2 linked regions of the Homo sapiens genome follow. The protein of the gene in region 1 interacts with the protein of each later gene in a pairwise test. Each region holds a gene or a part of one and is shown in the gene's direction. Other genes may lie near its edges.

Evidence for each region.
Region 2: the proteins of PPFIA2 (region 1) and PPFIBP2 interact in a two-hybrid assay, tested with the Homo sapiens proteins (one study listed by BioGRID).

The regions. Positions count from the first base shown.
Region 1 is NC_000012.12:81,283,543-81,287,466, reverse strand, and holds part of PPFIA2 (liprin-alpha-2), read left to right. Parts: intron 1-3,163; coding exon 3,164-3,226; intron 3,227-3,924. UniProt on the Homo sapiens protein: Alters PTPRF cellular localization and induces PTPRF clustering. May regulate the disassembly of focal adhesions.
Region 2 is NC_000011.10:7,511,737-7,515,660, forward strand, and holds the start of PPFIBP2 (liprin-beta-2), read left to right. Parts: upstream 1-2,304; 5' UTR 2,305-2,381; coding exon of another isoform or gene 2,382-2,869; intron 2,870-3,924. Other genes in the region: leucine-rich repeat extensin-like protein 5, read right to left, coding at 1,474-2,304, 2,382-2,869. UniProt on the Homo sapiens protein: May regulate the disassembly of focal adhesions. Did not bind receptor-like tyrosine phosphatases type 2A.

The DNA.
Region 1 (3,924 bases):
AGAAAATTGTCCTGGGTATATGCTTATTTTGTGAGGAATGAAACAGATAAAACCATAGCTTCCAGCATGTTCCACATCCCAGAATATGGTGACAGACTGGCAGACACAGACTTAAAGATAATCTGTGAAAGATACTATGCATGTATCTATTCTAGTATGAGATAATTAATACAGGTAGTTTCTTAAAGAAGTAATGAGATCTTCATTATTTGGATTACGATTCAAAGCAGAAGCTACACAAATCAGTGTAAAATTGATTTTACACTGTTCTGCAAGCTTAAGCCATTTAAGATTGGCTTAAATGAATTTCTTCTCAGGTAATCATTGCTGAAACTCACTTTGAACCAACAGTATACCCACTCAAGAAAGCACCACGATAACTCAGTGTAAAGGGAATGTGACAGATGCATGTAAAGTACTTTTCAGCACAGCACTCTCCTCCTAAAGTCAATAAAAACAATTTATTCCAAGTAATGTAATGATTTATATACTCATATGCAACTTTCTGTTTATAATGAGCATCATTGTTAGAAGCAGGGAATACAAGGAAGGGACTTTTAAGGACATAAATGACTTTTATATTCTAAATTTATTTAATAGGTGTACACAGATTTATCTTATAGAAAAAACATCATCTGTACTCTAAATTCCAAAACAGTAGAAGAAAATAAATTCTATACATATATTTGATGTCTAGCCTGTGGAATTTTTATGTGCCTCGAATTTGCTTATAATTATGAATCTTTACCACCCATTTCCATTTGTTACTTAAGTATATATACAATCAAATATCACTTAATGCAGATATATGTTCTGAGAAATGAGTCATGAAACAATTTCTTCGTTTTGAGAGTACCATAGAGCATACTTACATAAACCTAAATGGTATAGACTACTGCACACCTAGGCTATGTGGTATAACTTATTGCTCCAGGGTACAAACCTGCACAGCATGATACTAAGCTGAATACTGTAGGCAAATGTAACACTGTGGTAAGTATTTGTGTATCCAAATATGTCTAAACATAGAAAAGGTACAGTAAAAATATAGTATAAAAGATAAAAAATGGTACACGTGAATAGGGCACTTAGTGAATACGAAGGCCTAGGACATTACTATATACTACTGTAGACTTTATAAACACTATACTTTATACTACACACAATTCATAAAAAAACCTTTTTATTTCCTCAGTAATAAATTAGCCTTAGCTTATGGTAACATTTGTAATTTATAAATCTTTTTTTTTGTTAACTTTTGACTCTTTTTAAAATAATACTTAGCTTAAAACACAAATACATTGTACAGCTGAACAAAATTAATATCTTTCTTTATATCCTTGTCCTATAAGCTTTCTGCTATTTCATTATTTTTTCCCCTCTTTAAGCTTTTTCGTTACAAACTAAGACACAAACACAAAAATCACTATAGGCCTACACAGGATCGGGACCATCAGTATCACTGTCTTTCATCTCCATATTCTGTTCCACTGAAAAGTCATTGGGGCAGTAACACACATGGAGCTGTCATCTCCTAGGATATCAATGCCTTCTTTTGAGATGCCTCCCAAGGAACCTACTTGGGGCTATTTTACAGTTAACTCTTTAAAAAACAAAAGTAGAGGGAGTACACTGTAAAATAATGATTTAAAAATCATGGTGTGGTAAATACATAAACCAATAACCCAGTCATTAATGATGATTATCAAGGGTTATGGGCTGCACATAGTTGCACGTGCTATACTTTTAGACGACTGGCAGTGCAATAGGTTTGTTTACACTAGCATTACCACAAACATGTGAATAATGCATTGCACTACGATGGTATAATGGCTCTGATATCACTAGGTGACAGGAACTTTTCAGCTCCATTATAATCATATGAGACCATTTGTTGTGCATGCACCCCATTCTTGACTACAATGTCGGTATGTAGTGCATGACTGTATATATGTATGTATATACATATATAAGATTTCACTTACATCAAATTATACTCATCAATTTATATGTAGTTACATTTGTTTTTAATACAGGAAAAGTTATGGTACTAGGTGAATGGCAGAAAAACCCAAAGTGAATTATGGTGATGACTTGTAATGTTTGGGTAACAACTTTGCTACACCAATTCTTTAAAGATTGGACCCTCCCCAAAACAAGTAGCAGATAATATATAGGATGTAAATTTCATTGATGTGCTTGGAAAACCTTGCAATGTTCATAAAGAAATGATGGAATTTGATGGCAAGTGGTTTCCAGGGGCCAATACCTTCAATGATATGCCTGATCTGTATGTTACTAAGTGGACTTTGGTTTCGAAACTGTACGTTATTAAGTGTATAGAACTAATACCAAGGGGTGTTTTATTTAGAAAGCAAATGGGACTTTATAATAGAATATTGCCTGCTAGAGAAAAAAAATTATTTTACACTATGTTCTTCTCTATAATGGTATCAGATACTGGTGGAGAATTAGGAAATATATGGATTTTATAATTTGACAGTTATTAGTGTGGCTAAAAAATACATTTTATTAAATTAAAAATAGCATTTCACTTCTTTCTCAGCTGCAAGAATTCAGGGACACTTACTATTTACTGAATCACACACAGTAAAAGGAATCTTTTGGGAAAAGCTGATGCTGGTTTCCAGATAAGTTACGATAATGCTTCCCGCTTTATATTGACAACCATTTTTTTTCCTTCAAAGGATATCGAGAATCAAAATTATGTGAAGGAAATTTTGATAATAACACAACAAAGTGCATGTGCCATTGTTTTCTGAGTAAAAAATTAAAATTACATTATTCTACAGTTCAAATTTAATCAGTTCACCGTTATTACAAAAATTGATCTGATAGCCACATACCATTGAAATGCAAATTTTGATGATGCTCTTTTTCTGATTAATAATTGCAGAAATGTCATTTTAAATCTACATCCCCAAGAGCTTCACAGAATGCCTCTTTCTAGTTAATCTTTTTGAGTAGAAGAAACAGGGAGCTCTGAGCAAACCAGCCATGCTGTCTCTTTCATGCACACGGTAGGGGCAAGGGCACTGTGGTATTGCTGTGTTGCTGTTAACTCACAGAGGTGCTGCCTTTCTTCTTTACCACTGCTTGCCTCCCATGGATTCCTCTGCTTCCCTCTGGGCCTCCTCACTAGCCTTCAGGCAACGTTTGGGTGACTCATGAAGAAATGGAAAATCTTGCAGCTCCAGCAAAAACGGTTAGTCTTAATGGCTTTGTTGAACCTGAAGGAAAGTGACTTTGCTGCTCTTTGGATGAGGAAACTAATCTGTTTACAATAGACCAGAGTAATAGGGTGTGTTTTTATAGTTACATGCAATGATAACTAACATTTTTTACAGTTTTCTTTTACTGCACTCTCTTGAAATTTTTTAATGAAATAGTGTTAGATTGTGGCTAATATCATAAGAGCTTATAGTACACAAACAATAAGGAAGAAAGTAATAAATAGTATTCATGTTGCAACATTGGAAGTTTTTGTAACAAATATTTAGTATTGGACATATTCACAGGTAACATGTTTCTAAACCAAATTAAATTGGTAATAGAAAAGATTAGATTGAATATTCATTTTTAATATGATCATGTGGTTTCTTGTGCTTTACCATCTTAGATACAAGCTTGACCAAAAAAACCCCCAAAAAACCAAAAAAGTGTTATGTTAATTTGGTACTGAAAAGCACAATTTTAAAGAATTTCTTGGGGACTCTTTGTCACTTTTAAAAATAAAATGCTATAAAAATCATTTTTTCATGTAAAGTAACAAAGTTGGGCATATCATATATTTTATCTTTATCAACTTCTTTTTAATTTAATGTCTTTTCAGTGTTATCCTTATTTGAAAATTGATTATCTACAAGTTTGTTAAGGATAAAAACACCAATGTCATGTACTAAT
Region 2 (3,924 bases), on another chromosome or scaffold:
GAGAAAATGTTTTTTTCCATAGCATTTGAGTAGATATTTGGCAGAAGGGAATTACTCAACCCATGGATACAGTGTAATTACCCACAGTTCTAACAGAATGGTACAGAGAGGCCAAATCCTTTGTGGAATGAGACAGGTATGAATAAATAAATGTGATATTACCTGCCCTATTACCTACCTATTTCACAGATAGAAGGAATGTGGGCTGCCTCACAGAGGATAGTGGGGTAGATTTATCAATAGGAGTGAGTCCTGCAACCATAGTTCCTTTGGAGGCACAGAGGGGAGGTTGCCTGAAATGTGCTGTCTAGATTCCACCTGGGATATGATTTGATTGACAGCTCTGCAGGGCACATCTGCCCCAAACAACTCACCTTGGTACCTACCTTAAATCCCTGCAGCTCGAATCACTCTTTTAGGTCAAGACATTTTCTCCAGGAAGCCCCTGTTAAGGGACCACTTTGCTTCTTGTGAGCCAGCGCAGGTCAGTATGCAGGCCTGGGAATGGGGTTTCTTTCAGGTGAACGTTTTAGCTCTGGGGTCTTGTTGGATTTAAGTGAAGACTGACATCGACATGGCCTACATCAGTGGTTCTTAAACTTTGTTGCACATAAGAATCACCTGCGGAGTTTTAACAGTCCTCATGCCGTGGCCATATCCCCAAGACCATTAAATCAGAACCTCTGGGGATGGATCGAGATATCAGTATTTTTAAAGTTCCTTCCCGCAAGTTGGTTCCAAAGTGCAAAGAAGCTCCAGAGCCGGTGACTTAGAACATTTAAAAAGGTAACTGTATCAATTTAAGAACAGGCTAGCAGTTTCTGGGGGCGGAGGTAAGGGGAGTGGCTCCGCTAGGGCAATAAAGGGTGGGATTCGGAAACAGCCATGACCTTGTGTGAACTGTGGCAGCCTGCGTCTACAAAAGTCGCTCTGCTGCTATTTTAAGGAAGTGAAAGAGAACTGAAGGGTGTCCTGTTGTAACACAACTCTTGCGGGCCCCAGCCTTCCCCTGCTGGCTGTGCTTTGGTCTGCTGCTGGCCAGGTTCCCGCAGTGACCACACGTCTCATATTTGCCAGGGTGGGTTAGGTTCTGTTCACATGTAAAATTCTCCTGGGCCTACTGGTCATTTCAGACCGCGAGGGTAAATTTGGTTTGAAAAAGTTGTGTCCTGTGGAGTTTGTCGACACTCCAGCCTGTAGAGAACTAAAGGCTAGGGCTGTGGTGACTCCTGCCAGAGCTGGGGACTATGCCGAGTCCCTGGTGTCGCTGCCATCTGAGGCCTACAGGGATTTTAAACAGCTTAACAGCAGCCAGTCCTTGGAGGCCTGGGCAGGGCCACAACATAGCAGTACAACCAAAACGGGTTCAGGCCACACGCTGGAGGTAGGGGCTGGACCAGATCTCCAGCTTCAGTCCTCCCCAGTTCGAGAACCCATTCCTGTGGTCAGACATTGCCAACGCTTTTCTTGGACCTAAGGTCCCAGACCTTGGCGCTGGGCACAGGGAAATGCTTCCTGACCTCGGCTCTTCATAAGACAGAACTTTTGTTTGGTGCCAACCACTAGAGGGACCTCCACCCCAGGTTGCGAGTGCAGCGCGGCGGGACCTGGGATGATTCGGGGGCTTTCCGACCTGCTTAGGGAGGGCGGCTCAGAGACAACCTCAATTTTGCCTGGATTGCACGCGGGCCGAGGAAGTCGGGATGCTCCGAAGGGTTTCTGCTCTGGGAGTGCCTCTAATGTGGGTTTTCTATGCTTTCTCTCTTCGCAATTCTCGACACCGTTTCCTTCTTCCTCGCTTTCATTCCCTGTGACCGGAGAACGGCGCTGAAGGACTGGAGAAGCCCAGGAGACTGGGAGCCGGAGCGCCGGGTACCCACCCGGGCCTCCCCGCAACCGGAGCTGTGCGGAGGAGGAGGCGCGGCGAACGGGGCGGGGCTCCCGGAAGGGGGCGCGGTCCGCCGAGAGAGGCGGGGCTGGGGCCCGGACGCGCGGCCCAGGGGGTGGGGACGAGGCAGGTTCGAAGGGGCGGGGCTGACCAGGCCGGTCCCCCGGGAACAGGAACCCTGGTGGACGGGTCCCAGCAGGCTTCTTCGGTGCCCGAGAGGGAGCGGGTGCCCAAGGGGGTGGTCCCTGTGGCAGGTCCCGGGGTGGGGGCGCGGCGCTCCGGGAAGAGCCTTCCGCAGGTCCCCGCCCCGTCACGTGGGCGCCGGCCCCGGCCGCTGCGGTCGGTCCGCTGGTTGGTCGGGCGCTTGGTCCGGCAGTTGGTCGGTGGGCCAGTGGCCCGTCGCTCGCTTCTGGGCTCTCATGTTTGAAGGTGGGAGGGACACGGGAGCGGCCCGCACACCTGAGCCGCCCGGAGAGGAGCCTCGGCCCCGTACCCAGGTCAGTGGGCTCTCCCCACACCCCGGGCTTGCCGCGCGGTCGGGGTTGGGATCCCCGTCGGGAGCATTACCTAGGGAGTGGAGCGCCCCCAGAGCTACGAACCACGGGGACGTGTGGGTCAGTGTCTCTGTGAGCCCCGGAGCGTGTCCCAGGCTCGAGGACGGGGACCCTTCTCCAACTCCACTGGCCAGAAGCCTGGGAGGAGGGCAGAACTCCTGTGGGTTGGCTGCGAATCTCCACCCAACCCTGCCTGGGATCCGCGGACAGTCCGCACTCCTGCAGGTGCCAGCGTGGCCCTGGAGATGCGCAGGGAGGTGGGGTCCCTGAGTTCTGTGCGGCGCGTCCCAGCCCTGCTCAGCCCGGGGAGCAGCGGCGTGGACTAGGGAGCCTAAGGAGGTTGCGGAAGCTTTAGGTCTGTCAGCCCAGGCAATTCTCTGGTGGACACAGCGTGTGTCTAGATGCAGGGCCTCGGCTAAAGCCAGTTCTGTAGTGTAAGTGCAAAAATACAGCACACTTTTTAAAATCTAAAGCCGCCGCGTCCCAGTAGACTGCAGGATGGGGACGGTCCTATTTAAAAGTGGGCTCCCTCCTCACCTCATCACATCAGATTCCAGACCCGCAGTTTTTCCTCGGATGAAAATAAGATTATGTAACAAGAGAACAGAACTTCCAGCGTTTGGATAGGATTAAGACAGGCATTCTTGCCAGTGTTTAATCTTCTTAAAAAACGAATCTAATTATATTTTTACTTTTAGAGCAGCCAGATATTTGGTATAGATCCGTGTCCCTTTTCTATATTTTGGTCTACTTCCTGTCTTTCTCTTCGTCTCTCTCCTTTCTCAACCCCTCCTTAATTGATTGTAATACAAATCTGAAGTGTTTTCAAATTTGTAGTGTATTATGTGAAGTTAAATGGTCAACTACAGAAAAGTAGTTGGTTTTCGACATAATTCATCTTCAGCATATTCAGTCTTTCATTATTATAGGTGTATGGAAAGCTGTAAGTGTTATCTAATTTAGAAATTATTTCTCTTTGGCTTAAGAGAGGCAACCCATTTGTACTTTGCTTAAATTCATAGCTAAATAAATTTGAAGTGGGAGATGGGGATGATTGATGAGGTTTTCACTGATTGCATTTATCCATGTTTTATTTAACATATTTCAATTATTAGTAATACTATTTTAAGATTTGGTGATGTGACAGTTGTTAGCTTATTGCTACTGGAGAGATAAGCTGCTTACCATGATGCCTTCTTTACTGGGTAGCTAAGGGAGATGCGCTTTGACTTTAAAAGAGTAAGTGGAATGAGATCAATGACATGAAGGCGGTAGGAACAAAGTTATGGGAATTCCTGTCTTTCATCTGAGCAGGGAAATCTGGGATAATTTTAAGAAAGGGTGATGTGATGGACCTCAAAGGATCCCTCCTGGGGTTTTTGAGGCAGAGAAGGGTAGAGTGTGGCCTGGGCTGTGACAACTGTGTGGGCAGGCAGGCATGGACTCACCATGAGAAGTGGCCAGTGGTCCAGCTTGGCTCTT